Regions from separate parts of the Homo sapiens genome. Here region 2 is linked to region 1. Evidence: fine-mapped expression QTL. A gene starts in region 1. The other region holds a variant in brackets. All regions are shown on one strand. Distances are from middle to middle.

Region 1 (4,221 bases):
CAGACAAAAGAGCTAGACCTTTCTGTTCTTCGTATAATACTCTCTGTGTCTGCACAGTATTCTTTTTACTCTTTCAGATGTGAGCTTTCCCATTTTGCAGAGGAGAAAACTACACACTGGAAAGGAAATTCACCCAAGGTGACCCAGCCAGTTAATCCATTCATTCATTCACAAACTCATTCTCCAACCATTTAAGAGCCTACTGTATGTCAAGTAAAAGTTGAGTAATTCAGCCAGGCTCACGTGATGGCTCACGCCTGTAATCTCAACACTTTGGGAGGCTGAGGCGGGCAGATTACTTGAGGTCAGGAGTTCAAGACCAGCCTGGCCAAAGTGGCAAAACCCCGTCACTACCAAAAAAAAAAAAATTAGCCGGGTGTGGTGGCACATGCCTGTAATCCCAGCTACTCTGGAGCCTGAGGCAGGAGAATCACTTGAACACGGGAGGCGGAGGTTGCAGTGAGCCGAGATGGTGCCACTGCACTCCAGCCTAGGTGACAGAGCGAGACTCCGTCTCAAAAAAAAAAAAAAAAAAGTAATTCCTAGTTACAAGACCCTTCCAACTAAACCACTAATGTAAAAGGTCTTATTTCTTCCAGGTGTAACCTCTTATTTTTTTAAAAAAGCAACTATTCTTAGGCCGCGCGGTGGCTCACGCTGGTAATCCCAGCACTCTGGGAGGCCGAGGCGGGTGGATCACGAGGTCAGGAGATCGAGACCATCTTGGCTAACACGGTGAAACCCCGTCTCTACTAAAAATACAAAAAATTAGCCGGGCACGGTGGCGTATGCCTGCAATCCCAGCTACTCGGGAGGCTGAGGCAGAAGAATCGCTTGAATCCGGGAGACGGAAGTTGCAGTAAGCCGAAATCACGCCATTGCACTCCAGCCTGGGCAATAAGAGTGAAACTCCGTCTCAAAAAACACAACAAAAAAAAAAGCCGGGCGGTGGCTCAGGCCTGTAATCCCAGCACTTTGGGAGGCTGAAGCCAGCGGATCACGAGGTCAGAAGTTCGAGACCATCCTGGCCAACATGGTGATACCCCATCTCTGTTAAAAAAAAACATATACAAAAATTAGCTGGGCGTGGTGGCGCGTGCCCGTAATCCCAGCTACTCCGGAGGCTGAGGCAGGAGAATCGCTCGAACCAGGGAGTCGGAGGTTGCAGTGAGCCGAGATTGCGCCACCGCACTCCATCCTAGCGACAGAGCGAGACTCCATCTTAAAAAAAAAAAAAAAAAAAAGATGCCATAAAAAATTACTCCTCCAAAAAAAAATTCCAATAAACCCACCTGTGGCTCACATAAAAAGGGAAGCCGTGGCACATTTATCCCAACAAGGAAGTGTTTCATTTCCAAGACTGAGTTTCCTGGAGTAATTCAGAAGTCACTTCCACCCCAAAGAAGCAGGCCACCTTTTCCAATCAGTTTAACATTGCTACTTTCAAAAGGGAGGCTGCTACTACGTAAAAGGACTCCATGTGCTGGACTGATCAAGGCAGCATGAGAACTTCACTCTTTCACCTGTAACTCACACATCCCCAAACCACATAAGCCCCTGGCAAGCCCTCTCTGGAACAGGTTTCCAGTGCAAACATCCCCTAAACAGCAACTTCCAAATGACCGAGAAGCCTAAAAATCAGCACAGCCCCCCCACCACACATACACACGCATCAGCGAAACAAGCCACTATCCCTAGCTCAGATACAAACTCTGCCCTGAACTTACTCTCCCCCAAAACAGGCAAGGACCAATTTGGTCACCATCCCACCGCCCTTCCTTGGACGAAATCCCATCAGTGCACATGCCCTCCTAAATTCCATACCTTTGCCCTACCAGCAGTTCCTTACCCTAAACACCCCTCCCCATAATATTTCACCCGCCCCTCCTTTCCATCCGGGCTCCAATCCATCAGCCCCCTCCCACCACCACCCCCTCTCCTAATTACTGTGTCCCCTCTCATAACGTTCCCCCCAAAAAGCCATCCCCGTGTCAAGCCCTCCTCCACCCACTGATCCTCGGTAAAGCCCCAGCTCCCGCAAAGAGAGAGAGACAGGATCCCCAAAGCTGACCGAAGGGCCCGCGGGAGGGGGAGGGGAGCTCAGGGCCGTGCGCATGCGCCCCGGGCGCCGCGGTAGCCGGTCGCCCCTAGGCCCGGAGAGAGCCCCAGCCGCCGCCGTCGTCCCCCACCCCCCGACCACCGCACCTACACGCCGGCCCGGACTCGGGCTTCACGCAGGGAAGGATACTTAAAGCCAGCATTTTGGATTGGTAGTCAAAGGCTACCACCTCGCCCTGCAGCCGCTGCTCCTGGCACGTCCGGCACGACACCTGGCTCCCAACGCTGAAGTACTCGCCCGGAGGAGCCGCCATCTTGGGAGTGCAGCCGCGGCCGGCGGCGGCGGCGGCAGCAGCGGGCGAAAGCCGGGCCCCCAGTGAGCGCCGCGACGCGACGGCGCGCACGGAGCGTGCTTGCGTCACACGCCGGGGCGTGGCCTGGCGCTGGTTGGGGCGGGATCCTAGGTGGAGTGGGAAAGAAGAGGAAATAAAGGGGAATCTGAAAAGTATTTGTATAGCTGCGTCCGCTCGGTTAAGTGCTTGTAGAGTCCATTTTAGAAGTTAAGGATAAATGACCTACGTGGAATGAAAAGGGGAAAGAGGAGGGAGCTGCAGTCTCCATTATATGCACACCTTCCACACAAGAGTTTAATGAATGAATTTTATAAAATATGTTAACCCCATTTTGCATATGAGGAATCAGAGCCTCAGAGGACTTAACGATACTTGGACAAGATGATTATAAGGCTGGGAGCGGTGGCTCACGCCTGTAATCCCAGCACTTTGGGAGGCCGAGGCGGGTGGATCACCTGAGGTCAGGGGTTCGAGACCAGCCTGGCCAACATGGTGAAACCCCGTCTCTACTAAAAATACAAAAATTAGCCGGGTACGGTGGCGCGTGCCTGTAATCCCAGCTACTAGGGGGACTGAGGCTGGAGGATCTCTTGAACCTGGAAGGCGGAGGTTGCACTGAGCCAAGATTGTGCCACTGCACTCTAGCCTGGGCAACAGAGCGAGACTCTGTCTCAAAACAAACAAACAAACAAAAAAAGATGATTATAACTACTGAGTGATAGTGGAAAGAACATTGGCTGTGGAGTTAGATAAGCTGGAACCAGAATCCGAGGTCAGCCTCTTACTAAATCACCTGACCTTGAGCAAGCAAATTACCTGATCCTGTTTCTTCATAGGCATTTGTATTGTCACTTCTTGAGCATCTAACAGCCCTTTGAGGTAGGAATCAATGTCCTCCTTTTACATAAACTAAGTTTTAGACTAAACTTGTCCACGGTTCCACAACTAGCAAAAACAGTCTGCCTATTTCCAAGGACGGTGCTATTTACTGCTATACTCTGTTACATAATAATACCTACCTCATAGTTAGGAGGTTTAAATGCGGTAACGGGTATAAGTGCATGGCATGTACTAGGTCTTTAATAAATGGTAGTTCCCCCTTAGTCACCCATCACTCTTAGAAGTCAAGACACTTCCCCTTCTCCCTTTTTGCCCTCTCTCCCAGAAAGCCAGGCAAAAGGCAGGAATGAGGAGCAGCGGATAGTGACAAAAAGGGGCTTGGAGGAGGGGTTTTGCGCCCCTGCCCTTGAATGTCCGTCTGATGTACAAAACAGTCGTTTTCTTAATCTTATGCAAAGGACTATGAGCGTGCATTTTCAAGCCCTACTACCACCAATGGCTGTCGCTAACCCACCCACCGCTCACTATAGAAATTTTGGATCCTCGCTTCATGTATAAGAAACAGGTTGACCTTTCTCTAGTCCAGAGGGAAGCAAAGGGCCAGTCTTGGCGCGGCTTAACCTGAACAAAGTTCAAAAGTATTTCCTTGCCCTCCAAGAAACATAAACTTCCTGGTGTTGGAAGTATTGATACACTCATTATAATAGGAATAAAAATTCTGCTCCTTCATAGTGTGCTTTTTCAGAGAACTTTTTTTTTTTTTTTTTTGAGATAGAGCCTCGCTCTGTCACCCAGACTGGAGTGCAGTGGCGCCATCTTGGCTCACTGCAACCCGCACCTCCCAGGTTCAAGCGATTCTCCTGCCTCAGCTTCCGGAGTAGCTGGAATTACAGGCACGAGCCACCATGCCCGGCTAATTTTTGTACTTTTAGTACAGATGGGGTTTCACCATGTTGGCCAGGCTGGTCTC
Region 2 (4,221 bases), 77 kb before region 1:
GAAGCCAGATGCTAACACATTCCTCGGGCCCCTGTGTCCACCCCTCCTCTGGTGGTCAGCACAGACATGGTGACCGTGGCCCTGAAACCATGTCTCTATTACCAATATCATCAGACTGGGCAGAGCTCTCCCCTCCCTTGCCCTTATTAATTGCACCTGGAGACTCCTGAGAAAATGGGGCTTCCCTCCCTCCCCGCCGCTGCTCTCTGACTTAATTACTTCTCCTCCTGGCTGTAATGAATGTTTCTGAGCCCCTGAGACTGAGCTTCATCAGAAGCAGCTGCCTCCAGGACTCTAGCCCTGTCTCCCCAGCCCTATTCCTCTGGGCCCAGCCCATCGCCTCTACCCTGGGACTTCAGCTACAAAAGGCATCTGGGCAGGGGAGACTCCCAGCCTCTCAGCCTCCCTGCTACTGATGGAATTCAGCTCGAAGATCAGACCTTGAGAGGTCGACCCATACTGGGGGTTCTGAATCCTCAGTCCCCCATCCAGCAATCTGTCTCCAGGTCTTGGAGCAGACAGCTCAGAATGACCACTCTTCCCAGCTTCCCACATGCCACACCCCTGTGGGGCTGGCATGAAGAGGCCATTTCTTCCCTTTGTTCATCCAACCAACATTCACTGGGCCCCTCGTCTGTGCCAGTCCTTGCTCCAGGCACTGAGAGGAGGCCAGTGCCTGTTGTTCTGAGCAAAACAGACATGGCATGTGCCCTCTAAGAGCTTACAGTCCAGCAGGGAACACAGCCCAAAACAAACAGATGAACAGAGAACTAAAATTAGCAATAGGGAGGGAGGAAGGGGGCAAGGATGGAGAACGAGTGCTTCGGTAGCAGGGAGGGGCAGAGAGCGGTGGGACATATGCCTCCATCTGTCCTGTCCAGTCCCCACGCCGGAAGTCCTCACAGCAGTCTGCTCTGCATCCCTCCTAATTCAGACCAACATGGTCTACTGGACCATCACCTCCAATCACCCAGGGCCACAGCCACACGCCATCCCACTCATCCATCACTGAAATGACCACAGGGAGAGGAGAAGGTGACCCGTGGGAGCCCCAGAGCCACCAAGTCAGGAGGAAGGGCAGCAGAATGAAGACATTTCCTCCTGTTTCTGCCTCTTCATCCTTCCACCAGGGTCTCATCCCACTGCCAATCATCAAAATAATTTCCAGGTAGATTAAAGAGTTAAATATAAAAATAAATTGAACTGTGGAAAACAGGACGAAATGGAATCATCAGACCTCTTGCGGAAAGGGAGCTTTACGAGCGTAAAAGCTCTGGAAGAAATCACAAAAAGAAAGGTCAACAGCCTTGCCCGCACAAGCGTTAAATGGTGTGCATGTCATAAAAGCGTAACTGAAATCACAGATCAGACCACCTCGCTTTGCCAGGCTAACTTTAATTTATCCTCAATTCAGCTCCCCGGGGAAGCTTCCCTGACCACTTCACCTGCCCTGGGTTGACTGCCACCCTGAGCACTCCAGGGCACTCAATCCTCTCTCAGAGCGGAGTTGAAACCATGTTGTGATGATTTCTGTATATTTCCATCCCCATGGACCATGGGCACCTTGACATTTTATTGTTTTGATAATCTCCATGGCCAGCACACAGAGATATTTAACACAAAGTAGAACTCAATAACATCTTTTTTTCTTTTTAGTGGATATTTTCTGGTTCTCTAGCTTTTTTTTTTCTTTTTCTTCTTTCTTTCTGTCTTTTTTTTTTTGAGACGGAGTATCACTCTGTCACCCAGGCTGGAGTGCAATGGCAAAATCTCGGCTCATTGCAACCTCCACCTCCTGGGTTCAAGTGATTCTCCCACCTCAGCCTCCGGAATAGCTGGGATTACAGGCATGCACCAACACACCGGCTAATGTTTGTATTTTCAGTAGAGACAGGGTTTCGCCATGTTGGCCAGGCTGGTCTTGAACTCCTGACCTCAAGTGATCTGCCCGCCTCAGCCTCCCAAAGTGCTGAGATTACAAGTGTGAGCCACCGCACCCGGCCCTAGCATTTTAATTGTAAAAAACACATAACAGGCTGGGCGCGGTGGCTCACGCCTGTAATCCCAAGACTTCGGGAGGCCAAGGCGGGCGGATCACGAGGTCAGGAGATCAAGACCA[T/C]CCTGGCTAACACGGTGAAACCCCGTCTCTGCTAAAAATACAAAAAATTAGCCGGGCGTGGTGGCGGGCGCCTGTAGTCCCAGCTACTCGGGAGGCTGAGGCAGGAGAATGGTGTGAACCCAGGAGGCAGAGCTTGCAGTGAGCTGAGATCATGCCACTGCACTCCAGCCTGGGTGACAGAGCAAGACTCCGTCTCAAAAACAAACAAACAAACAAACAAAAAACACACATAACATAAAATTTGCCATCTTAATTTTTGGAGGAACTGCCATACTGCTTCCATAGCAGCCACACCATTTCACATTCCCACCCAGAGTACACTAGGATTCCAGTTTCTCCACATCCTCACAACACTTGTTGTTAGCCATCCTGATGTGTGTGAAGCAGTTTTGATTTGCATTTCTCAATAACTGTTTTTTAAATGAAGGAATCAATAGACTAAGAAAAATTCAGATGGCAAATATGACAAAGGGTTAATACAAGGCCAGCATGGTGGCTCCACACCTATAATCCCAGCACTTTGGGAGGCTGAGGTGAGAGGATCCTTTGAGCTCAGGAGTTTGAGGCTGCAGTGAGCTATGATCACACCACCGCACTCCAGCCTGGGAGACAGACCAAGAGGCTGTCTCTTTAAAAAAAAAAAAAAAAAAAAAAAAAAAAAAAAAAATATATATATATATATATATATATATATATATATATATATATATATATATATATATACACACAAATCTATAAGTAAGACATTAGGCTCCCCCAAAGGTAAATGGACATGAACAGACAAGTCCACTAGCAAGGAACCATACCAACATTGGCAACTAAAAAAGGCAAAATGGGATGCCATGTTTTACCTGGTAAGATTTCCAAAATAAATTAATCAAGCTCACAGATGGCAAGAATACAGGAAAACGGGCACACTGGCTGGCTCGTGGCTGGTGAGAGTGTACACTGGCACAACTCTTTGAAAAGCAGCTTCTCGACGGGGCGAGGTGGCTCACACCTGTAATCCCAGCACTTTGGGAGGCTGAGGCGGGCAGATCACTTGAGGTCAGGAGTTCGAGACCAGCCTGGCCAACATGGTGAAACCCTGTCTCTACTAAAAATACAAAAAATTAGCCAGGCACAGTGGCACACACCTGTAATCTCAGCTACTCGGGAGGCTAAGGCATGAGAATTGCTTGAAGCCAGGAGGTGGAGGTTGTAGTGAGCCGAGATCGCACCATTGCACTCCAGCCTGGGTGACAGAGCGAGACTCCATCTCAAAAAAAAAAAAAAAAAAGAAAGAAAGAAAAGCAACTTCTCAAGACTCAAGAGCATTAAAAATATTCATGCACTCTAACCCAGAAATTCAGCTTCTGGGCACTTGCTGAAATATTACTTCTAATGGCAAAAACCGCAATTACTTTTGCACCAACCTAATACATGCAATCGGGAGATACAAGGCACAAAATGTACACCACAGTTCATTTATAATAGCAAAAACTTGGAAGCATCATAAATCTCTAATAACAGCATATTTGATATAAAATTATGAAACATTCCTACAATGTAACACTATGCAGTCACCTAAAAGATGATTACGAAATTTATGATATGAGAAACTAGGATTTAATGTTGTTTTTTTTTTTTTTTTTTGAGACAGAGTCTTGCTCTGTCACCCAGGCTGGATGCAATGACTCGATCTCGGCTCACTGCAAGCTTCGCCTCCCGGGTTCACGCCATTCTCCTGCCTCAGTATCTCCGAGTAGCTGGGACTACAGGCGCCCGCCACCACGCCCGGCTAATTTTTTGTATTTTTTAGTAGAGACAGGGTTTCACCATGGTCTCGAACTCCTCACCTCATGATCCGCCCGCCTCGGCCTCCCAAAGTGCTGGGATTACAAGCGTGAGCCACCGCGCCCGGCCTAGGATTTAATGTTATGCGGGAAAGACAGGATACAAAATGTCACCTGCAATAAGATCTCAACTGGGGCCAGGCACAGTGGCTCATGCCTGTAATTCCAGCACTTTGGGAGGCTGAGGCAGGTAGATCACCTGAGGTCAGGAGTTCGAGACTACCCTGGCCAACATGGTGAAACCCTGTCTCTGCTAATAATACAAAA

Alleles and levels. Positions count from the first base shown, and alleles are read on the strand shown. Sizes are in standard deviations (SD) of each study's normalised expression.
For the expression in fibroblasts of the gene that starts at base 2,456 in region 1, allele T in region 2 goes with a lower level than allele C (moderate effect, 0.57 SD a copy in GTEx).

The links. PIP is the estimated chance that this variant, and not a neighbour inherited with it, causes the effect. A credible set is the group of variants that fine-mapping cannot tell apart.
Region 2: its variant is the best candidate, but not a certain one, in a credible set for the expression of LSM12 in fibroblasts (GTEx, PIP 0.88).

What each region holds. Positions count from the first base shown.
Region 1 is chr17:44,064,216-44,068,436 of GRCh38, forward strand. LSM12 (LSM12 homolog) reads right to left here and starts at 2,456. Exons shown (of 5, transcript NM_001371445.1): 1 at 2,249-2,456. The coding sequence starts at 2,372. RefSeq lists silencers at 1,989-2,128, 2,419-2,538.
Region 2 is chr17:43,987,059-43,991,279 of GRCh38, forward strand. It overlaps a transcript of PYY not described here. Among named protein-coding and RNA genes, the nearest start is that of NAGS, 15 kb to the right of the region's middle. The variant T/C (reference allele first, on the strand shown) is at 2,120.